Regions from separate parts of the Homo sapiens genome. Here all the other regions are linked to region 2. The links come from fine-mapping of genetic effects on gene expression. A gene starts in region 2. Each other region holds a variant in brackets. All regions are shown on one strand. Distances are between the middles of the regions.

What was found.
Region 1: its variant is fine-mapped to the expression of CLSTN1 in whole blood (TOPMed, PIP above 0.99).
Region 3: its variant is fine-mapped to the expression of CLSTN1 in whole blood (INTERVAL, PIP above 0.99).

What each region holds. Positions count from the first base shown.
Region 1 is chr1:9,725,840-9,734,007 of GRCh38, forward strand. It overlaps PIK3CD (phosphatidylinositol-4,5-bisphosphate 3-kinase catalytic subunit delta), which reads left to right. Exons shown (of 24, transcript NM_005026.5): 24 at 1,070-3,275. The coding sequence ends at 1,207. It overlaps CLSTN1 (calsyntenin 1), which reads right to left. Exons shown (of 19, transcript NM_001009566.3): 15 at 8,133-8,168; 16 at 7,562-7,707; 17 at 5,922-6,057; 18 at 5,367-5,551; 19 at 3,087-4,866. The coding sequence ends at 4,669. Among named protein-coding and RNA genes, the nearest start is that of PIK3CD-AS2, 42 kb to the left of the region's middle. The variant C/T (reference allele first, on the strand shown) is at 3,214.
Region 2 is chr1:9,818,827-9,827,005 of GRCh38, forward strand. It overlaps CLSTN1 (calsyntenin 1), which reads right to left and starts at 5,139. Exons shown (of 19, transcript NM_001009566.3): 1 at 4,817-5,139. The coding sequence starts at 4,907. RefSeq lists silencers at 4,861-4,940, 4,951-5,100, 5,271-5,320, 5,341-5,400 and enhancers at 5,013-5,729, 6,790-6,849.
Region 3 is chr1:9,765,512-9,773,690 of GRCh38, forward strand. It overlaps CLSTN1 (calsyntenin 1), which reads right to left. Exons shown (of 19, transcript NM_001009566.3): 2 at 7,761-7,883. Among named protein-coding and RNA genes, the nearest start is that of CLSTN1, 54 kb to the right of the region's middle. RefSeq lists a silencer at 2,506-2,706. The variant G/A (reference allele first, on the strand shown) is at 4,095.

The sequences.
Region 1 (8,168 bases), 93 kb before region 2:
GCACTCTAGCCTGGGCAACAAAGGCAAAACTCCGTCTCAAAAAATAATAATAAAATAAAAATAAACATAAATAAAAGATATTTTTCCAGGCTGGGCATGGTGGCTCATGCCTCCGTAATCCCAGCACTTTGGGAGGCTGAGGCAGGTGGATCACCTGAGGTCAGGAGTTTGAGACCAGCCTGGCCAACATGGTGAAACCACATCTCTACTTAAAATACAAAAAATCAGCCAGGCATGGTGGCACATGCCTGTAATCCCAGCTACTCATGAGGCTGAGGCAGAAGAATCACTTGAACACGAGAGACTGAGGCTGCAGTAAGCCTAGATCGCGCCACTGCACTCCAGCTCGGGTGACAGAGCAAGACTCTGTCTCAAAAAGAAAAAATTGGCCGGGCACGATGGCTCAGGCCTGTAAACCCAGCACTTTGGGAGGCCAAGGCGGGTGAATCATGAGGTCAGGAGATCGAGACCATCCTGGCTAACACGGTGAAACCCCGTCTCTACTAAAAAATACAAAAAATTAGCCAGGTGTGGTGGCGGCTGCCTGTAGTCCCAGCTACTTGGGAGGCTGAGGCAGAAGAATCACTTGAACCTGGGAGGCGGAGGTTGCAGTGAGCCGAGATCATGCCCCTGCACTCCAGCCTGGGCGACAGAGTGAGACTGTCTCAAAAAAATGTATATATACAGATACATATGTATTTTTTTTCCTTCTTGTGTCCTCTCCATGTGAGAAGGTGGGATGGGGCGGTGAGGCTGCTGGGGCCACACATGCTTGCCAGGACCTTCCCTCTGGTGACCAGTCCCTGCAAAAGCAGCTGCTCCCATGCTCCTCCCAGAGCCATTTCTCCAGTAGGGGAGGCGAGGTCACTTGGGAACTGGGGGCTCTGGGGCCAAGATGTCTTTGGCACCTTCATTTGAGGGTGGGAGCGGAATAGAGAGCTTTTCCTGAGATGCTGGGAGCTCTCTACTAACCATTTCATTCAGTGACTCTGAAGTCCCCAGAGAGGGACGCATCCCAGAGCAAGGTCCGGGCCCCCTTAACGTGGACACCGCTGTGATTTGTTTGCAGGACTCCCTGGCACTGGGGAAAACAGAGGAGGAGGCACTGAAGCACTTCCGAGTGAAGTTTAACGAAGCCCTCCGTGAGAGCTGGAAAACCAAAGTGAACTGGCTGGCCCACAACGTGTCCAAAGACAACAGGCAGTAGTGGCTCCTCCCAGCCCTGGGCCCAAGAGGAGGCGGCTGCGGGTCGTGGGGACCAAGCACATTGGTCCTAAAGGGGCTGAAGAGCCTGAACTGCACCTAACGGGAAAGAACCGACATGGCTGCCTTTTGTTTACACTGGTTATTTATTTATGACTTGAAATAGTTTAAGGAGCTAAACAGCCATAAACGGAAACGCCTCCTTCATGCAGCGGCGGTGCTGGGCCCCCCGAGGCTGCACCTGGCTCTCGGCTGAGGATTGTCACCCCAAGTCTTCCAGCTGGTGGATCTGGGCCCAGCAAAGACTGTTCTCCTCCCGAGGGAACCTTCTTCCCAGGCCTCCCGCCAGACTGCCTGGGTCCTGGCGCCTGGCGGTCACCTGGTGCCTACTGTCCGACAGGATGCCTTGATCCTCGTGCGACCCACCCTGTGTATCCTCCCTAGACTGAGTTCTGGCAGCTCCCCGAGGCAGCCGGGGTACCCTCTAGATTCAGGGATGCTTGCTCTCCACTTTTCAAGTGGGTCTTGGGTACGAGAATTCCCTCATCTTTCTCTACTGTAAAGTGATTTTGTTTGCAGGTAAGAAAATAATAGATGACTCACCACACCTCTACGGCTGGGGAGATCAGGCCCAGCCCCATAAAGGAGAATCTACGCTGGTCCTCAGGACGTGTTAAAGAGATCTGGGCCTCATGTAGCTCACCCCGGTCACGCATGAAGGCAAAAGCAGGTCAGAAGCGAATACTCTGCCATTATCTCAAAAATCTTTTTTTTTTTTTTGAGATGGGGTCTTCCTCTGTTGCCCAGGCTGGAGTGCAGTGGTGCAATCTTGGCTCACTGTAACCTCCGCCTCCCAGGTTCAAGTGATTCTTCTGCCTCAGCCTCCTGAGTAGCTGGGATTACAGGTGTGCACCACCGTACCCAGCTAATTTTTGTATTTTAGTAGAGACGGGGGTTTCACCATGTTGGCTGGGCTGGTCTCGAACTCCTGACCTCAGGTGATCCACCCGCCTGAGCCTCCCAAAGTGCTGGGATTACAGGCATGAGCCACCGCGCCCGGCCCACTCTGCCATTGTCTAAGCCACCTCTGAAAGCAGGTTTTAACAAAAGGATGAGGCCAGAACTCTTCCAGAACCATCACCTTTGGGAACCTGCTGTGAGAGTGCTGAGGTACCAGAAGTGTGAGAACGAGGGGGCGTGCTGGGATCTTTCTCTCTGACTATACTTAGTTTGAAATGGTGCAGGCTTAGTCTTAAGCCTCCAAAGGCCTGGATTTGAGCAGCTTTAGAAATGCAGGTTCTAGGGCTTCTCCCAGCCTTCAGAAGCCAACTAACTCTGCAGATGGGGCTAGGACTGTGGGCTTTTAGCAGCCCACAGGTGATCCTAACATATCAGGCCATGGACTCAGGACCTGCCCGGTGATGCTGTTGATTTCTCAAAGGTCTTCCAAAACTCAACAGAGCCAGAAGTAGCCGCCCGCTCAGCGGCTCAGGTGCCAGCTCTGTTCTGATTCACCAGGGGTCCGTCAGTAGTCATTGCCACCCGCGGGGCACCTCCCTGGCCACACGCCTGTTCCCAGCAAGTGCTGAAACTCACTAGACCGTCTGCCTGTTTCGAAATGGGGAAAGCCGTGCGTGCGCGTTATTTATTTAAGTGCGCCTGTGTGCGCGGGTGTGGGAGCACACTTTGCAAAGCCACAGCGTTTCTGGTTTTGGGTGTACAGTCTTGTGTGCCTGGCGAGAAGAATATTTTCTATTTTTTTAAGTCATTTCATGTTTCTGTCTGGGGAAGGCAAGTTAGTTAAGTATCACTGATGTGGGTTGAGACCAGCACTCTGTGAAACCTTGAAATGAGAAGTAAAGGCAGATGAAAAGAAAGAAAAAGCCTTTTTATGTTCTTTTATGTTCTCGGCTCAAAAAGAAACAAGGGAGTGTAGGTTTAAAACCAAAACAGGAGAGAAGACAAACCCCGCTCCGGCTGGAGTTAGTTAGAACCAGAACTTTATTGTAG[C/T]GGATACACTTTCTGACCTATCATGAGTATACACATCTGCGAAGGGAAACCGCGCGGCGACAGCGTGAGGACATCCCCTGGGCGTGAGCGTCTGTCCGCTGTCTAAACAGAGCAGCTACAGGGACGGGACATGGAGGATGGCCACACATAGCACAGCCACCAGTGTCCTCAGAACTAGCAGTCAGGGTCACAGAACAGTATTCAAAATGATTGCCCACCTGTTTTAGAAATCTAAAATTTTACATGTAACTAAGAGCAAAGTGCTATGTGGGTTTTAGACCATGACTGTTTGTTTGCTCTCCTGCCCTACCACCAAGCAAAGCAGCAGGGCTCCTGGGGGAGAGGGATTTCAACCCCCCTGATGGCAGGGGGTGCTCTGGGGAGGAGAGAGGAGAGAACAGGCTGTTTTGGAAAATTCCAGCACTTTGACTTCGGGCCATGCGTCTCTCCTGGACGTTCTGAGTACGGATCGCTCAGGCCTCCTGCCGTCTCCAAAAGGAGTGGTCAGCCGGTCTGCAGGACACCTCTCAGTTTCTCCTTTTACCAGCAGGAAAATGTACATTTAAGCATAAACCACAAGGCTGCACACGGTGAGACCAGGCCACTGCCCAGGGAGCTGCTGTCGGAGGAGGAGTGTGGAAAAGGGGCCAGGGACCCCGCACCCCACACCAAATTAGGAACAGGTAGAATCCCAAAGGCAAGGCCCGGCCACTTGTAGCTACCCTGATCCAGTCTCTTGAGCAGCACAGCTAGAGGCCTGTGGCCCCCGACTCCCAGCCATACTCAGACCTGAGCAGGGGCTGGGGCGGGGCTGGGCGGGGTGGGCCTCTCCCTCTGGGGTCTGGGGAGGGAGGACCCGGCGGGAAGAGCCCGTGCTCAGAGCTCCGAACTTCACTTTACATTCCAGTCCCGGGTTACACTAGCACAAAGGACACAAGGAATCCGATTTATTTACAAAATATTAAAAAGTCAGTTAATCATCTACACAGTACCCCCCATCCTGCCATTATTTATACATGCACTAGTTTGGAAAAAATAAAAACTTTTTTTAAAAAAAGAAAAAAATGATTACCGGGTGGGAGTGAGCATGTTTTACCCTTTGTCAACGAGCCCAGCTGGCATGGCTTTTCTGGAGTGCGAGGGGCCAGTGTCCTCTCCCCGGGGGGAGACTCCAGACACAAACGCGGGGCCTGAGGCGCTGGGAGGCCCCTGTGCGAGCCGGATGGCGGCCAGAGAGGACGTGTCAGCTCCTCGTGGGACTGAAGAGCGCGACCAGGCAGAGGGTGGGCGGGGAGCCTAGGGTCCTACACACCAAGCACAGCGACGATCGTGGCGGGGAGGGGTCTGCACACCTACTGGCCGAAATGACTTTGTACATCGTGGACCCTTGGGACTGGGAGAACGGATGGCAGCAGAGTCTTCGAAAGCAGAAACCGAGGTGGCCGGGGGCACGGGTCAGTAGCTGAGGGTGGAGTCATCCCACTCCAGCTGCTGCTGCCGGGTTGCGTTCTGGGGGTCGCCCTGCTCCCCCTCCTCCTCCTCGCTGCTCTCCGACTCGGCGCTGGTGATGTCATCCTCTTCTTCGCCGTCCTCGCTTTCCTCTTCCTCTTCCTCTTCCTCCTCCTCCTCACTGCTGTGCTGGTCCTCATAGGTCTGGCAAGGAGAAGTGACGGCCACATGAGTCCGGCCCTGCCCACAGCCCCGTCACCTGGCATTCTCCTCTCGACAGCCACAGAGGAAGGAGAACTTGCCCCAGCGTCTCCCTCCCCAGCGACAGAGCAGCCAGGACGGCACCGGAAGTTATATTAGAAGTGAAGGGAAAACAAAGCTCCAGTCAGCACCCACGGAGTCACCCACATACAAAGCAGCTTGGGACAGCACCTCAGCTGCCCCACCAGAGAACTCTCTCAGGATTACCATGACCCAAGAGCGCCAAGCCCTGGCATGGCTCTTCTCTACACTTAAGGCAGAACGGCCTTGAATAAGGTCTCTCTCAGCCTCGGTTTACCCACGAAGACACCTAAGCCCCAGGCTTGCTGAGCAGATGACGCGATGGAAAGCATGTGAACCTGAAGGAGCCGCGCCGTACCGGCTTCTCGGAGGCCCTGGCCTGTGCTGCCTCTCAGTCCTGGAGGTCGCCCGCCCACTCCTACCTCCATGGGGTTGACGGTGATGGTCAGGGCAGAGTCGTCCCAGTCCATCTCGTTCTCCTTCCCGGTGTCCTGATCCCGCATGGTCCGCCGATGTGCGGCCCGGATCCGAAATACCCCCAGGATAATCATGAACACCAGGAAGCTGACGCACACCACGATCACAACTGTCGCAGTGCTGGGGACGACTGTGGGAGAATGAGGGGGCGGGATGCGAGGTCACTCGGCCCAGAAGGCCACTGTGCCCTTGACCTCCTCGGCTGTGCCTGGTCAAAACGGGCTGGACAGCACGCTTCAGCTGAACCCACAGGCCAGGAGGAAATACCAGGAAAAGCTCGCCATGGGCCTCCAACCTGGCTCGGCCACGTCCTGCTCCATGGCTGCGGGTGACATCATCTGCCCTCTTCGAGGGCTTTAGTTTCCTTGTGTGTGATGGGGAATAATTGGGACAGGGAAAGACCGGCGGTCATGCTGAGCAGGAGGCTGTGCCCACGGTGGGGTGGGGGCAGGGCGGACGGCATGGAGCATCTCCGCTTGGTCTCCCTCCCCATGTCCTACCTGCGAACGGGTGGGGGTTGGCCAGGTTGTGGCCTGACAGGTCAACAAAGGAGCGGTGTTCCGGGTGCACGAACTGTGGCTGGGCAGCCATGTGGTTGGCGTGTTCCATGGGGTTGGCCGTGTGGATTACATTCACCTATAGCAGAGAAAGAGAGGATCGCTGGAGACAGGCATCCTGAGCCTGTCCAAGAGGTGACAGTGGAGTCCCGCAGCTGGCATGACCAGTGCCACTCAGAGTGGCTCCTGGACCGCAGCTGGGGGCAAACGGAGCTACGGGAAAAGGACAGAAAAAAAAATCAAGAGTAAGCACTTAAAAAACAAAAACAAAGAAAAAGAAACAAAAACCAAACAAAAAAGAGTAATAAGCACTTAGAAACTGCTATAACAATCTAATATTCTCACACATTCCAGAAATGTATCACTTTTCTACTTATTAGTATTTGTTGAGACTGGGTCTTGCTGTGTTGCCCGGGCTGGAGCGCAGTAGCTATTCACAAGCATGATCACGGCTCACTGCAGCCTGGAACTTCCCTGCTCAAGTAATCCTCCCACCTCAGCCTCTCAAGTAGCTGGGACTACAGGCAAGCACCACGCACCTGGCTGCAATCCATTTTTATTGCATTTTATAAAAGATTATGCCCAAAACAAGAGCAGAAAAAGAAGCCGATGGTCCTTCCCCATGGGTCGTTTGGGAAGCACTGGCGTAGACCTTTTTCCTCAAATCACAGCCGTGTGAAAGACAGCACCAATCACTGCCATGGATTTCCTTTCATATCTCTTACCCTTTGACTCAAACAAAACAGGCACCGAATTTAGCATTCTGCTCTTGAGTTCATGGTGATATTCCATTGCTAAGAGTAACTTTGGGTCAATTTTCTCCAGGCCACAGAGAGCCTGAGCGATGAAGCAGCTGCTGGATAGGTCTGTAGACGACCTCAGAGCAGGAGGAGCTACCCTCTAGCCTGTGTGGCCTGTGAGTCACCAGCGCCAGCCTCAGCAGCACTGGTCCTGCCCGTGCGGGTCCCTGCGTGAGCCCCTCTCAACCTGGGCCGAGGACTCGACTTCATTCACAGGAGGGCCAGTGACCTGGCACAGATGCAGAGAACTTTTGGTTCCCTGGATGCTGCTCTTTCTAAAACAGTGTCTTTGGCTGGGCACAGTGGCTCACGCCTGTAATCCTAGCACTTTTGGAGGCCAAGGCAAGTGGATTGCTTGAACCTGGGGGGACAAGACCAGCCTGGGCAACATAGTGAGACCTCGTCTCTAAAAATAAATAAATAAATAAAACCACATCCTCCTGTTTCTCTCATGGGAAATCTCAAGAAGCCCCAGAGGCATTAACTGCCACTTGCTCTTTGTCACCTCCCTGCAAAGTTCCTTAGGCTCCAACTCAGGCTGAGGCAGCCAGGGAAAGGGGAGCACCCCCCACCCCAGCTCACCCCAAACACAACTTGTCACTCCAACAAGCCCAGGTGTAACCTGCAGCAGGCCCCAGGCTGGAAAGGCGACCCCCTAGAATGAGCCTGTATAGCTGCCATCATGAATGCTCTGAGGTTGGCGTTTGTGAATATTAGGGCTGCAAATCAGCGCCCTCACTCACTGCTGCTATTGGCCCTGCTCAGTGGGAGCCTTGTACTCACCTCCACCTTAAATTCGTTGCTGATGTAGCGGCCATTCAGCTCTGAGCAGATGAGCTTAAACTTCCGGTCAAGCAAGGACCTGGCATGCCAGTTCCGATAGCGCAGCAGGTGCAAAACCTCCTCGTAGCTGGCCATGGTGTCCACGCCTGCAGGGGTTGAAAGGGGGAAGATTGCCGGGTGGCTTAGGGCAGGAGCATGGGCAGGGCTGCAGCCGTCAGCACAGGCAGGCTCAATTAGACACCCAGGTTAGCTAGGCCAAGGGGTCACACAAGTTGGCTTTCTAGCCATGGGAATAAATGCAATGTGCACAGGGGCATTCTTCCCTCTGTGGGGGACGTGTCATCCCACGCCTCAACCCTCCCCCTTTAGAGAGTAGTGGCTACACATCCGGTACCTGTCCAGGAGACAGGAGTATGCGTGCAGCCAACAATGATCCCAGCGAACGTGCTCCTTCCCCATCTCCCTCTAAGATAACTCAACATTCTCAGATGGCAGGCAGCAGCCAGCCAAGAGCTCTCAAAGTCCCCTCTTGCAGCCTGGCCCACCTGCGTGGCTGCAGCGCTCCCCTTACCTGTGAAGGTCATGCCCAGTTCAGAGCTGCTCACTT
Region 2 (8,179 bases):
CCCAGGCTGGAGTGCAGTGGCGCGATCTCGGCTCACTGCAAGCTCCACCTCCCGGGTTCACGCCATTCTCCTGCCTCAGCCTCCCGAATAGCTGGGACTACAGGCACCTGCCACCACGCCTGGCTAATTTTTTGTATTTTTTTTTAGTAGAGACAGATGGGGTTTCACCGTGTTAGCCAGGATGGTCTTGATCTCCTGACCTCGTGATCCACCCACATTGGCCTCCCAAAATGCTGGGATTACAGGTGTGAGCCACCGCACCCGGCCCCTTCAAGCAAGTCTTCACACCAAATTAAGACCCACTAAAAAAACAAGTTTTAATGATCTAAGCCCTCAACCAGAATACATAAGAAATAGACTCTTGGCGGTTTTTTAGGATAATCAGATCTCTATTTTGTTTCAACTCTTATAAATGAAAACTACCCAAAAAAATTAAAAAACATACTTTCCTGTCTCAGAAAGCAATAATAAAAATAACTCAGTACTTTTTTTCCTTTGTTCTAAAATTTTAACCTATCTCAGCTTCCTCATTTTAAACATTTAGACTTGGTTTAATAAGCTTCACTAAGTCCTGCAGCTAGTGTTACGAAATTACAGCATTTTCTATTTTCAATGTAATATTTTATATCCCACAAAAATTTCATTTTTTGGTCATATTCTTCATAACTAAAACTGAAATATTATTTGCGTTTTTGGCTTGAATATCAAATACTGGCACAGATAATGTATGTTATGACCTCCTAAACCTTCCTTTTGAAAAATAATTCCTATAAAACTGCTTGGTTTCATGCTTTTTCTCCCAAAAGAAATATCCAGCCAAAGGACGAATTCCAGCTAACTGAAGGTTCCAGTTAACCGAGTGAATGCTCTAAAATTGGAATATATTCAAAATTGTTCGTATTTTATTATTTCTTCAGCAGTTATAGGTCTCCTTTGAGAAATAAATGTTATTTACTTTCAGTATTAAAAATGTTAGACTATGGGTAATACTGAGGTCTATATTCGAACGACTTTTTTCCACATCGTTACTTCTGAAAAAACGAGGTAACAAATTAAGAAACCATCTTCCCAAAAAAGCTGAAAATTATAGTATTTTTAAAGGGACTAACAGGGGTAGCCACAGAGCTACAGCCTTCAAAGGCTGAGACAGAGTTTCATGATCTAATATCCCCAATACTGCAACCAACAGAATTGATCCTTGAACTTTTTTTTTTTTTTTGGTATTTTTGTAGTGACAAGGTTTCACCATGTTGCCCAGGCTAGTCTCAAACTCCTGGGCTCAAACAATCTGCCTGCCTAGTTCTCCCAAAGTGCTGGAATTACAGGGGTGAGCCACCGAGGCTGGCCCCATGATCCTTGAAAATTTACCCACTAATGAATTCCCATATCGACACTGCAGAATTTAAGTTTGGGCCGGGTGCAGTGGCTCACACCTGTAATCTCAGCACTGTGGGAGGCAGAGGCAGGCGGATCACTTGAGGTCAGAAGTTCAGACCAGCCTGGCCAACATGGTGAAACCCTGTCTCTACTAAAAATACAAAAATGAGCCCAGTGTGATGGCATATGCCTGTAGTCCCAGCTACTGGTGAGGCTGAGGCAGAAGAATCTCTTGAACCCGGGAGGCGGAGGTTGCAGTGAGACAAGATCGCGCCATTGCACTCCAGCCTGGGTGACAGAATGAGACTCTGTCACAAAAACAAAAACAAACAAAAAAAAAACTTAAGTTTGCTTTACACTATGTAATTTTTTTCAGTATATAGCATTTATCTGTAAAGTGAAAATTAGGATGCAAAGCTACTACGCTGTCTAAACTGAAATGCTGTTATCCATCCACCCATTCATTCATTCAATCACACAATACTGGCATGCCTCTGGTGTGCTGGTGACGGGAAACATATGCAAAGCAGATACCCTTCCATCTTGGGGCATATGTTCTACTGAGGGGAAACAGACGATAAACAATTCAATAAGTAAACAACAAGGCATGTTAGAATGGGCTAAGTGCTATGCAAAAAGAAAAAGTGTTGCAGGGAAACAGGATTTAGGGGTTCAGGAAGAGAAATTATTTCAAATAGGATGGTGAGGGGAGGTCTCACTAAGCCTATGTGCAAATGGAAAAGTAACAGTGAATTTTATGTATTAAGTGGCTTCGAAATGCATTACATGGTTGCATTTTTTAAATATTCATATAAGCTTTCTATTTTCTCTGCTTCACTGTTCTATTTCCCGATCTCCATGAAGAAGGCAGGTAGCTGAAGGACATGACCGTCCAGGGCATGCCAAAGATATTTCTTCTAATATTTTGGCTTACTGAATTTGTTTTTAAGATGGAGTCTTGCTTTGTCACCCAGGCTGGAGTGCAGTGGCGCAATCTCGGCTCACTGCAACCTCCGCCTCCTGGGTTCAAGCAATTCTCCTGCCTCAGCCTCCCAAGTAGCTGGAGTTACAGGCGTCCACCAGTACACCCAGCTAATTTTTATATAGTTAGCAGAGATGGGGTTTCACCATGTTGGCCAGGCTGGTCTCGAACTCCTGACCTCAGGTGATCCGCTGGCCTCGGCCTCCCAAAGTGCTGGGATTACAGGCGCAAGCCACTGCACCCAGCTCTACTCAATGTTTTTTGAGAACTACAGCTATAATTAAAATAAAATTTGAGGGTCTCTACAAAACTAAGAGTCAAGATGCAATTTATATTAGAAAATCTATCATTTTCTGCAGCAGTCTGTACGTAATCTAACATTAACAATGATTAAAGGTAGCTACAGCATGAACAGGAGTTCATGTCGTACTGCCTTACAGCCGTAAAAAATTCAATTAGTTGAAATGATCTCTTAAAACGAGCCCACAGAGTGTCTCCAAACTGTAAATTTACATATGAAATTCACTTGTAATATTTCAAAATGAAATTGTTTATTAGCATTTCGTGTAATTCCAAGACATTTTCTAACTTGCAACCTGAAAAAAATGCATACGAATAACTGATGTGTAAAATGTCTTTATTCCGAAGACTAAGAATCTTGAACTACTGTAACTGCACCAAGAAAAACTTAGAGAAAGCAAATTACAAATGACTCAACTAGCCAACACACCTTTCACACAAGATTTCTGTCGGTCTCAGGTAATGAAGATATTCAAAGTTGAAATGTATGCTGTTTAAGTAACCAAGGCAATTAAATAATGACTAACAAATGTAGGTGCTATTTAAGAAAGCACCAATTTTAACAAGAAATGGTATCACTGACTAAATATACTTAAACTGTTCCCAAAATACCCAATCCAAGCACATATTTTTAAAATGTGTGGGTTTTCCCCAAGAGAAGCAAAACTTTTGACATTTCTCTTGGATATATTAGAGTTTCAGACCTCCAACCCACATCTGGAAAGAACATTTCAAACTTAGCTTGATGTTACTTTTAAAAATCAAATGGCCAGCAATGAGATACTTAGTGACTAAGATCTGAATTTGACAGAGTCAACAGAATGTTAGAAATGAAATAAAAGAAGTATTCAAAGTTTATCATCCTCGATGTTTAGAAAGGAACATGGAACAAAAGATGCATTTGCCGCCTCTGCCCTTTAATTCGTGAACACCATACTTCTCTCCTTATGTCACGCCAGGGAAGGGAAAATAAGAATTTTTAAAAAGCTTGCTAAATTCAAATATGACCATTTCATCTAGATTTCTATCAATCCTCCTCCCCAAAATTTCTTTTGATTAAAAAAAAATCAGAACAACAGATTTAAGCCTACAGTAGATTCTACAGACTACACCTAGATTACTCTGCTCTAAGGCCAAGGAAAATGTTTACGATTTCAAGATCCACTCAGAAGCAAATACTGTATCTGCAATGCGTAAGCTTTTCGTTGGCAAGACCAGTCAATAGCAGAGGCATGCAAGGTTTAAAAGGTTAAGTGGATGAAGGTTAAAAGCTAATAATAAATTAGCCAAGAAATACTACTTCCCACCGAGCCATAAAATAATTTCGGTCCTACAATCCTAAAAAACCAGAGAGGTTTCTCGTTTTTGTAGAGAACATCTAACCCTCCACGGTCTAAATGACCGTCAGAAAAACAGCACCAAGGCACCAGGGGTAGCAGAGACGGAGATTTCTAACACTGGGTGAGCCCGCGGTCGCAAATCTCATCGCGATTTCACCTTTGGGTGAAAAGGTGGGAGGGAAGCACTAAGTTTCAGCCTCGGCTCCACTGGAAACAGACAACGTCTGAAGGACTCTGGGAGGAGGCGGAAAGGGGCGAAGTCGTGGTGTCCGCGGTGCAGCAACACAGAATCGGGATCTTGGAAACGGGATGCGGAGGAGTGGGCTCTTATGTAAGCACACACCAAAACTGTGCGTGCACCCCCCGCCTGATGCACATCTGAGCACACGTACACAGAGCATCTCACCCAGGGGTGCAGCCCCAGCCTGCGTGCGCCGCTGAGCAGGGCGGACTGACCCTTCGGCCCGTCTGCACGTTCCCCCAAATCAGCGCAGCCACCACCATGGGCTGCAGTGGGGGCAGCCCAGGCTCAGGAGCCCCGCCCGGGACGGAGCCTGGCTTCCCCGGGACGCCTGCAGCGCGCGCCCACAGTCTCCTGCGCCCTGGCCCCGGCTCCGCGAGCCCGACCCCCAACCCGAACCCCACGCCCTGACCCGGCTCCCTGCGCTCGGACCCGACTCCCCGCATCCCGGCTCGAATCCCGGCATCCGGCCCTACTCCCGCACCCGGACCCGAATCCCCGCACCGGGACCCGAATCCTGCACCCGGACCCGAATCCCGCACCGACCCAGCGGCCCGGCCCAGCCCCGGGGCTTACCTCGCGCGGCCCAGACCCCGCCGCCGCACAGCAGCCCGGCCAGCAGCAGCCGGGCGGCCGGGGCCAGCGCGGGAGCGGGGCGGCGCAGCATCGCCAGCCCGGGGCGGGAGCGGCAGGGAGGCGCGCGGGACGCCGAGCGGAGCTCTCGGAGCTCTCGGGGCTCTAGGGGCCTGGGGCTAGCTGCTCCGCGGCGCGGGGAGCTCCGGGGGTCCAAGGAGGAGCCGCCGCCGCCGCCGCCGTGACGCTGGGCCGCGCGCTCAGGACGCGGCGCCCTCCCCGCCTCAGAGCAGCGTCTTGCTGAAGGCAGCGGCAGCAACTAAGATGGCGGCGGCGCTCTCTCTCGGGTCCGGCGAGGGTACCCGGCCGGGGGCGGGGTGGCGGCGGGAGGGGCGGGGATGGGGAGCGACGCGAGGCGCGCGCGCGGCGGACCCTGGGAGCGCGCGGGCCCGGGAGGGGCGGGGGAGAGGAGCGGAGGGAGCGCGCGCGGCGGACCCGGCAGCGGGCGCGCGCCTCCGAGCCCGTCGGCCCCGCCTGGAGCGCGCGCCCGCGGGGACGCGCCTGGGGTGGGTTCCGAGCGGCCGGGAGGGGCCCGGGGGACTGTATCCCTTTCCCTGGCCGCAGATGGAGAGCCTCAACTCCGCGTCCCTACGCGCGCTCCCGGGCTCCTAAGGCCGGGTGAGCGGTACCCGGGGACCCGCTCCTCCTTCTCCACCCCGAGGACTCATCCTTCCCACCCGCTCCGCCGAGGAGCGCAGACCCCGGCGGAGCAGTGCGGCCCAGGACCCTTGTCACTTCGGGCAGGTCGCGTCGCCCCCCAGAACCTCGGGGTCCTCGTCTCCCCAGTAGAGGTGTTGAGAGGGGTCACGAAAGGGGGTCCAGGAGACGAGGTCAGCGAAACGCGCCTGGTAAACAGTTAAGGGCCGCGCAGCACTACCCACACCGGCTCCCGCCCCGGGACCTGCCCCCGGGGAGTCTGTCCTGAATTCACTGAAGGAATCTATTTGTGACTTTCAAAAGGCGGCTGGTGTGCGCGCTCTTTCTCAGTGACATGGTGCGATGCTGGTTCTTAGAAATGCGGAGGTCCGAATGGATAGAGAGGACAGAGAAGCCCTCCCCCTCTACCGTGGATCCCTACAGGGATCTTGGGGTCCTCCCAATTTCCCAGCGTCCAGCGGCCCCCTCCTCCTCGCCTCTGGACCCCTGGCACCCCCCCGCAGTGGAGGAAAGGCCTGGAACAGCCGTGGATGGGCGTGTGTGCAGGCACTGTACCCTATGAGACACTACTGGCTCCATTTTGCAGATAAGGAAACTAAGTCAGAAAGGTGAAATGACTTCCCCCGTTGGGACAACTATTGTAAAAAGAATCAGCCCTCAAGGACAGGATGTTCGCATTAGGGGGACACCAACAGCAAAAAGTGGAACCCTAAAATGTTCATTTTTCGAGACCGCTGGAGGAGCTATCCATGAATGTCACTGCTCCAGGTGGGGGTGGAGGAGGCTGGCAGCACTGGAGGCTGGGTGGAGACTGGTTTGTGGGGCGCAGAGGACTTATTTAGGAGACTAGTGGGCAAAGAGCCCAAAAACGTAGACTGAGGTCAGATTGGGGGAATGGACTTGATCCTACAGTCAACAGGAAGACCTGGAACGGCTGGGAACAGCGGTGTGATGTGACCTGGGGAAGGCTTCAAAAGCAATCTGGAATCCAACTCCCTGAGCCGTGTTCCCCGTAAGCGTCCTGCACCAAAGCCTACAGATTCCATCTTGTTAATGTCTCTCCTTCCTTCCCCTGCTCCCCCTCCCCTGCGTGGAGGAAGACCGGACTCTCCTTGGCTGGACCCTTCCCAAAGCACCTGCCTGGCCCGGGCAGGCTCCAAGCCACACCCACCACTCCTTCCAGCCAAGGCTTTGAGTCATCCTCTCCCCTGGTGACGGGTGTTGCCATTGCTTCTGCCCCTCCTGGAGTTATAAACTCAGTGAGTGCCTCCCTGCTGCCACCTCGTCAGGTCCAGACATCTCTGCTGGGCTTCCCATCCTCCACCCAGCTGACCTCAGGGCATGCTGTCTGCCACTGTCTCTTCTTATTCATTCCCCTCCCAGGGCCAACATCACACTTCCTCCTCCACCCATACCCAAGCCTCAGGTCCTTACAAGGAGCTTCTGGGCTGTCTCCTTCAGGAAGTCCTCCTGCCAGCCCTCCCTCTCCAGCCCCGAGCTGCTCTAACCAAACAGTTCAGCTTTATAATCTGCTGCCTGTGCTGTCGACTGACTAATCCATCAGTGTCCTTTTCTCCTCCCCACTGTATTCTAGTGGGAAGGACCCAGATGGTCTAGTCAGACGGGACTGGACTTCAGTGCTGGCCTCTGCAAATGCAAACGACCTTGGCCAGGTTATGGAACTTTCAGAATCTCCTCACCTGCGAAATGGAACAATATGTACTTCTTAGAGTTGTGAGAATTAAATGAAATGATGCCACATAGATCTAGAAATACCAGGCTTTATGTGGCAAATAAATGAAAGTGCCACATAGAGCCTGGTGTTTCTAGATACATGAGTTTCTTTTTCCCTTCAAGAAGAAGGCTTCTGTGCTTCTAGTATACCAGCGATCAGAGTAGGTACTCAATAAATAGTGATGAACTCAATGAATTGCTGAGTTAGGTTTTATTATTATGGAGCTCACATCTCAGAGGGTGAAAAAAGATGTACCCTGTAGATTTCCAGGGACCTTCGAGATTTGCAAAACATAAAATCGGAAAGGTATAATCTCAGAACTATGTTTTCAGTCCATAGACTGATGATGCCAAAAGGGGAAATTTAATGTGTTCAGTTCTATTAAAAACACAAACAAAAGCTCTTCAGTGTCTGGAATCCTGATCCCTTTATCTTCTCACCCTTACTGTCCCTTAAAGAAACAGAGATAGGTCAAAAAGATCCAGCGTCAGGTGGGGCAGATAGACGGCTTGGTGAGCTCAGTGCAACCTGCACCTGCTGGGATTTCACCCACATGAGAGTGAGTCCAGCTTGAAAGTCTCGGAAACGGGGGAACCAGTAAACTCAGTTTCTGCTCTGCCTGACAATAGCCTCAGCCACATTGGCACATTTCAAAGGTTTCCCCCATGATGGATTAGTTAATCCTCCAAATGGCCCTGAGACAGGGATCGATTCAGGCTTATGCTATGGTTAGCTGGGAGAGGGGCCTTGCCTGAGCTGAGCCAGCCACTGACAAAGTGGCAGCATCAGAGGCCCTGGAGCCATGGGGAATGAGGCATCACCCAGGCCCATCCTGAACTGGGAACATAGACTTGAGGATAAGGAGGTGACTTTGTTAGCTAGTGGAGGAAGATCTGTACTTTTGAATGTATAGT
Region 3 (8,179 bases), 53 kb before region 2:
TCTCTACTAAAAATACAAAAATTAGCCGAAATCACTTGAACCCGGGAAACGGAGACTCCATCTCAAAAAAAGAAAAAAAAAAATGGAGGCCAGGCGCCGTTGCTCCACCTGTAATCCCAGCACTCTGGGAGACTGAGGCAGGTGGATCACCTGAGGTCAGCAGTTTGCGGCCAGCCTGGCCAACAAAGCGGAACCCTCCCTCTACTAAAAATACAAAAATTAGCCGGGCGTGGTGGCGGCGGGCGCCTGTAATCCCAGCTACTCAGGAGGCTGAGGCAGGAGAATCGCTTGAACCCGGGAGGTTGCAGTGAGCCAAGATCGCGCCACTGCACTCCAGCCTGGGCGACACAGCGAGACTCTGTCTCAAAAAAAAAAGGCAATTTCATGCAGGTCAACCAATTCACTGCTGCAAGCACAAGGTCAGCTCAGTTACATGTGCTAAAAAAGCAAAACTGGGCAGTGAAATGCAGCAGTTAACCCCACTGGCCACCCTCAGGGCATGTGAATCACATTCATAACAAAGAATACAGACAAGAGTATCACAGGGCTCCTCGGTGGGCTCTAACTGACTATCAATGAAAACTAAGTTCCCATTCTTGCCCTGAAACTTCTTTTGGATTCTATTTGTATCATTATGGTTCAACCAATCTTGTAAAACATCCATACTTAATCTGGAAAAGCAGGAAAGAGATTGCTAGAACACCACCACCTCCTAGAAGGAGGAGCTCTGAAGAGGAAACAAGAAGAGGAGGCACGGCTTCTGACAAGAACAGAATGCATCATCTTCAAGGCCCCAACCCTGTGGCCCACACATGAGGCTCAAGCTGGTAACTCTCCACGAAATATATAAAATGTAAACAAAATAGGCCGGGCGCGGTGGCTCACGCCTGTAATCCCAGCACTTTAGGAGGCCAAGGCGGAGGATCACTTGAGGCCAGGAGTTCGAGACCAGCCTGGCCAACATGGTGAAACCCCGTCTCTATTATAAATACAAAACATTAGCTGGCTCGTGGTGGTGCACGCCTGTGATCCCAGCTACTCGAGAGGCTGAGGCATGAGAATTGCTTGAACCCGGAAGGCAGAGGTTGCAGTGAGCCGAGATCGCGCCACTGCACTCCAGCCTGGGTGACAGAGCGAGACCCTGTCTCAAAAATAAATAGATAAATAATAAAATACAAAAATTGTTTTCTGACCCATGACTACTCAGGCTTTCAGCAGATTAAAGAGAAGGCGCAGAACAAGAAACTGAATCATTTAAATTTCCTAAAACACTTGACAAATACCAAGACTCTGTATCAGAATTTCACCCCAAGGAAACAATCCGGGCGAGACTGGATCTTCATTGTGAATGTCTGATTAGTGATGACTTACAAGGAGCTTCAATGACTAAGCTCCCAGCATTGCATGTGCATTCATTTCAGAGCTCTAACAAGTGAACTCCTGTGGCTACCCACACACACATGCCTTGTAGTGGGATCACACTATGAACTGGAATGTTCACACAGTGAGCTGGGCCCAGAGGCGGCTCTGTCACTTATGAGCTGTGTGATCCTGGGTAAACTCATCTCCTCCCTCTACAAATATCTATGGAGTGACTGTGTTCCAGGCACTGACGGAGGTTTTGGGGATAAAATGGAAAACAAAGTAGCTTCTCCTGCTGTCACGCAGCTGGCAGACACGCTGAGCCTGGTTCCTCACCTGGAGAACAGGGACAGTGGGCATGTCTACTGCGTAAGATTGGAGAAGAGAGGCTGGGCGCAGTGGCTCACGCCTGTAATCCCAGCATTTTGGGAGGCCGAGGCGGGCAGACTGCCTGAGCTCAGGAGTTCGTAACCAGCCTGGGGAACACGGTAAAACCCCGTCTCTAATAAAAATTACAAAAAATTAGCCAGGCATGGTGGCATGCACTTGTAGTCCCAGCTACTCGGGAGGCTGAGGCAGGAGAATTGCTTGAACCCAGGAGGCGGAGGTTGCAGTGAGCCGAGATAGCACCACTGCACTCCAGCCTGGGCAACAGAGCAAGACTCCATCTCAAAAAAAAAAAAAAAACCTGCTGAAAAGAATCGGAGAAAGTAACCCACACCGGGCCCTCAGAGCAACCTCTGCCACACTGCAGGCACTCAATAAACGTTAGATGCCACCACCATCACCACCCTCCTCCTCAACATGGTGCGAAATTAAACTCAATGTCATCACCCAAATCAATCTAAGATGAAAATAAGGCTCCAGGTCTAGCCTCTGTCTTATCCAAAAAATACTTAAGAAAGTCTGTAAGAAAATGCAACACTATAACGACTTTTGTAGAAAGATGAAAAAATATTTCTCACAAAATGTTAAGTGAAAAAATATTTTTAAAAGATTCTATTAGTAGTAATAACAGCAGCGGCAAATACTGTAGGTGGTAATTACTGTACCACCCACTGTTTAAAGCTCTTCACACGTATGAATAAAGAAGCTAACATTCCCCCAAACCAATGAGGTCTGTGACATTAATGAGGTCTGTGACATCTTATCCTTTTACAAATGATGAAATGGAGGCACAGAAAGGGTAAGTAATTTGCCTAAGGCCACACAGCCAATAAGTAGCAGAGCTACGATTCACTCACTGGTCCCTCGGCTCTAGGGTCTCTGTTCCTGACCTCCCTTGCTCAGTCTCATAGGGTCCTGTTCTGTGCTGGGTGGCACCATGGGGGCGGGGTTGTCCTGGACGGCACCATGGGGGCGGGGTTCTGTGTTCGGTAGCACCATAGGGATGGGGTTCTATGTTGGGCAAGATCATGGGGGCGGGGTTCTGTGCTGGGCGGCACCATGGGGGCGGAGTTCTATGTTGGGCGGCACCATGGGGGCGGGATTCTGTGTTGGGCGGCACCATGGGGGCGGGATTCTGTGTTGGGCGGCACCGGGGGGCGGGGTTCTGTGCTGGGCGGCACCAGGGGGGCGGGGTTCTGTGTTGAGCGGCACAATGGGGGTGGGGTTCTGTGCTGGGTGGCACCATGGGGTTGGCGATCTGTGTTGGGTGGCACCATGGGGGCGGGGTTCTGTGCTGGGTGGCACCATGGGGGCGGGGTTCTGTGCTGGGTGGCACCATGGGGGCGGGGTTCTGTGTTGGGTGACACCATGGGGGCAGGGTTCTGTGTTGGGTGGTATCATGGGGGCGGGGTTCTGTTAGGTGGCACCATGGGGGTGGGGTTCTGTGCTGGGTGGCACCATGGGGGTGGGGTTGTGTTGGGTGGCATCATGGGGGCGGGGTTCTGTGTTGGGTGACACCATGGGGGCGGGGTTCTGTGTTAGGTGGCACTATGGGGGCGGGGTTCTGTGTTGGGTGGCACCACGGGGGTGGGGTTCTGTGTTGGGTGGCACCAAAGCAACAGAAGAGGGAGGGAGGGAGGAAGCAACACAGGGAGAAAGTAAAGGAGAAAGGGAAAGAGGGAGGGAGGGAGGGAGGAAAAGGGGGAAGGAGGGAAGAAGGGATGGAAGGAGTGAGGGAGGGGGGAACAGAAGGAGGGAATGAGGGAGAGAGGGAGAAAGGGGAAAAGGGAGGGAGGGAGAGGGAGGGAGAGAGGAAGGAAAGGACAGAGGGAGGAAGCGAAGGAGGGAAGGAGAGAGAGAGGAAGGAAATGAGAGGGAGAGAGGGAGGGAGGAAGGGAGGGAAGGAAGGAGGGAGGGAGGTAAGGAGGGATACGGCTGCAGGTCAGGTGCTCCCTCCCCCCCATGCAGCTGCCCACTCCTCCAGCAGAGGACCCCACGCTTCAGTCAAGGGGATCAGTTGCACTCCTGTGTGTATACTAAAGGACTGAAAACCTATGTCCACACAAAGACCTGTACAGGAATGTTCACAGCAGCATGACCCATAATAGCCAAAAAGTAGAAGCAACTCAAATGTCCATCAGTGGATGAACAGAGAAACAAAATGTGATCTACTCATAGAATGAAATAATATCCAGCAACAAAAAAAGGAATGAGGGGCTGCTAGGCACCTAACACAGGTAAACTGTGAAATCACCATGCTGGGAGACGCCCATCACAAAAAGCCGTACAGTGCATTTACATGATTATCCAGAATAGAGAAATCTGTAGTGGTAGCCAGGGCTTGG[G/A]AGTGAAGGAGACTGAGGGATGAGTGCCACTTGGTGCAAGGGTTCCTTTTTGGGGTGATGAAAATGTTCTGGAGTTAGACAGTGGTTGGCAGGTGCATGGTTTTTGGAACATTCTAAAACTCAATGAGCTGTACACTTTAAAAGGGTGATTTTTTGGCAGGGCGCGGTGGCTCACGCCTATAATCCCAGCATTTTGGGAAGCCGAGGCAGGCAGATCACGAGGTCAGGAGATTGAGACCACGGTGAAACCCCATCTCTACTAAAAATACAAAAAATTAGCCGGGCGCGGTGGCGGACTCCTGTAGTCCCAGCTAATCGGGAGGCTGAGGCAGGAGAATGGCGTGAACCCGGGAGGCAGAGCTTGCAGTGAGCCGAGATCGCGCCACTGCACCCCAGCCTGGGCGACAGAGTGAGACTCCGTCTCAAAAAAAAAAAAAAAGGGTGATTTTTGTGGCATATGAATTATCTCCAAAAAAGAAAAAAGAAAGAAAAAATATTATATGAGTAACTGTGCTTCCCCCATGAAAATATCCAAAAGGAAAATATTGACTTATCTATCCACTATGGCAAATACAACCAAGTTACCACTATAATTGGATTTAAATTGCTTTTCTATACAGTTAAAATACATATCACAACATATAATTTTTGTACATCAGTAAAAAAAACCTGAGAATCTCTAAAAAATAAACTTGTATAAGTATTATTTCATCTAGAATATCTTAAGTTTGAGAAATACACAATAAAATTAAATACAGTAAGAAAAAAATATTTCATTGATAAGACTTTTTCTTTCAAAGTTAACACTCGGCGTACATTTCATTTCCTACTTCCTTGTGAACTTCGTGCAGTTAAAGATGTAGCTACGTCATCGTAGCAGGCAGCTGTCCCGCCTGGGCTGGAGCCCTGCCTCTGCACCCCCCGACCAGCTACACGCCCAGAGCAATAGCTTAACTATTCTGTGCCTCCGCTTCCTGCCTTTAATGCAGAAAAGCGTATTTATTATCTTATGGTTATTGGGGATTAAATACAAATTTATATTTGTACAGTACTTAGAGTAGTGCCTGGGACATTGCTATGCATGCTTTATAAGTGCATGCATTATTGGCTGGGTGTGGTGGCTCACGCCTATAATCCCAGCACTTCGGGAGGCCAAGGCAGGCGCATCACCTGAGGTCAGGAGTTCAAGACCAGCCTGGCCAACACGGTGAAACCCTGTTTCTAATAAAAATACAAAAATTAGCAGGGCATGGTGGCGGGCACCTGTAATCCCAGCTAATGGGAGGCTGAGGCAGGAAAATTGCTTGAATCTGGGAGGCGGAGGTTGCAGTGAGCCGAAATTGCACCACTGGACTCCAGCCTGGGCGACAAACTGAGACACCGTCTCAAAAATAAAACAAAACAAAATAAAATAAAATAGTGCATCAATTATTAACAACATAGTAAGATCACACTGCACGAACAACAGGACTGCTGATACTTCAAAAGGCAAAGGAGGACCTGAGGGAGCAAATACACAAGCCTGGACTGCAATCACTTCTTGAAATGCGTAAAACATCAGTAATGTATATAAAACTGCTCAAAAACATAAACTAAATAATTCTGTTAAAATGATCTATCCACTAGCACTTTGCAAGGCCAAGGCAGGTGGATCACCTGAGGCCAGGAGTTCGAGACCAGCCTGAACAACATGGTGAAACCTCGTCTCTACTAAAAATACAAAAATTAGGACGGGCATGGTGGCTTAAGCCTGTAATCCCAGCACTTTGGGAGGCCAAGGCGGGTGGATCACAAGGTCAGGAGTTCAAGACCAGCCTGGCCAATATGGTGAAACCCCATCTCTACTAAAAATACAAAAATTAGCTGGGCGTGGTGGCAGGCACCTGTAATCCCAGCTACTCAGGAGGCTGAGGCAGGAGAACTGCTTGAACCCGGGAGGCAGAGGTTGCAGTGAGCTGAGATTGCACCACTGCACTCCAGCCTGGGTGACAGAGCAAGACTGTTTCAGGAGAAAAAAAAAATGTGGGGGAAAAAGCAAAAATAATCACCCTGGCAACTGGACAAATGCTGTGTGTGTGTTCACGGCATGGGGTACTGCCTCTACTGTCCTTTTCATCAGAATTCTCTCTGAAAATTAATAAACACACAAAACAACTTGGGAGGCTCTATCTTTACAGCACAAGCTGGTTCACGGGTGACTGTGCTGAAAATGTGATGTGGCGCCTAAACAGAATGAAGTACAAATTTATTTTTCAAATAGTTCTTCAGAAACAAACTCATGTTTATTTCCTTCAACTTACTATAGTAAAATTAACATATGTTTCATACAAATTCATCCAATTTTTCTTATTTGTCCCTAGACAAATAGAACACTTTTTTTTTTTTTTCTGAGACAGAGTCTCACTCTGTCGCCCAGGCTGGAGTGCAGTGGCGCGATCTCGGCTCACTGCAAGCTCCGCCTCCTGGGTTCACGCCATTCTCCTGCCTCTGCCTCCGGAGTACCTAGGACTACAGGCGCCCACCACCACACCCGGCTTTTTTTTTTTTTTTTTTTTTTTTTTAGTAGAGACGGGGTTTCACCGTGTTAGCCAGGATGGTCTCGATCTCCTGACCTTGTGACCCGCCCGCCTCGGCCTCCCAGAGTGCTGGCACAGGCATGAGCCACTGTGCCCGGCCAGAACACTCTTTAATACGAGAAGTTTTTGTTTGTTTTGTTTTTTGAGATGGGGTCTTGCTCTGTTGCCCAGGCTGGAGTGCAGTGGTGCAATCAAGGCTCACTGCAGCCTCCACCTCCTGGACTCAAGCAATCCTCCTGCCTCAGCCTCCCACAGTGCTGAGATTACAGGCATGTCACTGTGCCCAGCCGTGCAGGAGAAGATCTGATCTGGAAAAATATGCGAAAACAACTCTTAAAAATTAACTTTACAATGTCAACTCCAACTCTGAGGCAGAAAAAAGGTGGCGCAGCCCATTCTCTACCAGTTAAGGACCCAACGTGAAGCCAGAACAGCTCTGACTTGGAAAATGCTATTAAGTGTTAGCAATGTACACGGTTATTACAGTATGAAAATCTCCAAAGCAATGCTACAGGTTTGTCTCTATAAAGACTGAGGCTACAATCTCATGTCTTTAAAATTCACTGAAGGTAAAATCTATGCCAAAAGCATTCCTCTATAAAGACCGCTCAACTTCTTCAAGTAAGTCTTCTCAGGTCATTGAAATCTAGGTAATGCAAGGAACCCCTGGCGCTGTGATTCTCCGGCTCCATGCCACTTGAGGACCAGCAACACCAGCAGTACCTAGGAGCAGGTGAGAAAGGCAGAATCTCAGGTCCTCCCAGACCCGCTGTCTCTACATTCCTCAGGTACTCCGTGTGCACCCTAGAGCCAGGGATGCACTGGTCTAGGAGTTATCTGGCTACATTAAGATAAAGAAAAAAATTATGCAATTAAATTAAACAGTTTGTTTTTCAACTATAAGAACAGGCCTTTTTGTCAGCTACCCCAACTATTAAAAGGAAAAAAAAACATGCTACAAAGGACGCTACAAATAACCCTCAGCTATGGAGACATTTTCAGAAACGCTCAGCATTACCCAAATGGGATGTGCAGAATGCTTCCTGACCAGGCCCGATTCATCAAGAGTCAATGAAAGCCCCGTTCCTACCTGCAAATCGCAGAGGCGCATCTTTATCCAGCGCGATCAGTGGGGGGTCGAGGAGCACGGTGTTGTCGTTCTCTGTGACTATGCCGTGGTAGGTGGGCTCCAGCCAGGGCTTGTGCTTGTTAACTGTGTTTAAAACAAGAGAAAAAAATAGACAAGGTTAGAAATATTATTTTCAACTCCACTACTTTTGAAGACACACACCTGCTATTAAAATAATAAAACTCTCATTAGGCTTGAAGACAGTGCTCACAGTTCTGTCGCAAAATTTGGTATCAAGACCCAAATGAGATGAAATTCTAAATTCCAGAATAAGTAATGTTGAAATTATCTGAATCCATGAAGCAACCAGAAATAAGAAATAAATTGCTCTAGAAATCAAGGGAAAAAAAAAGACTGATGGCTACGGGAAGACTATCTCT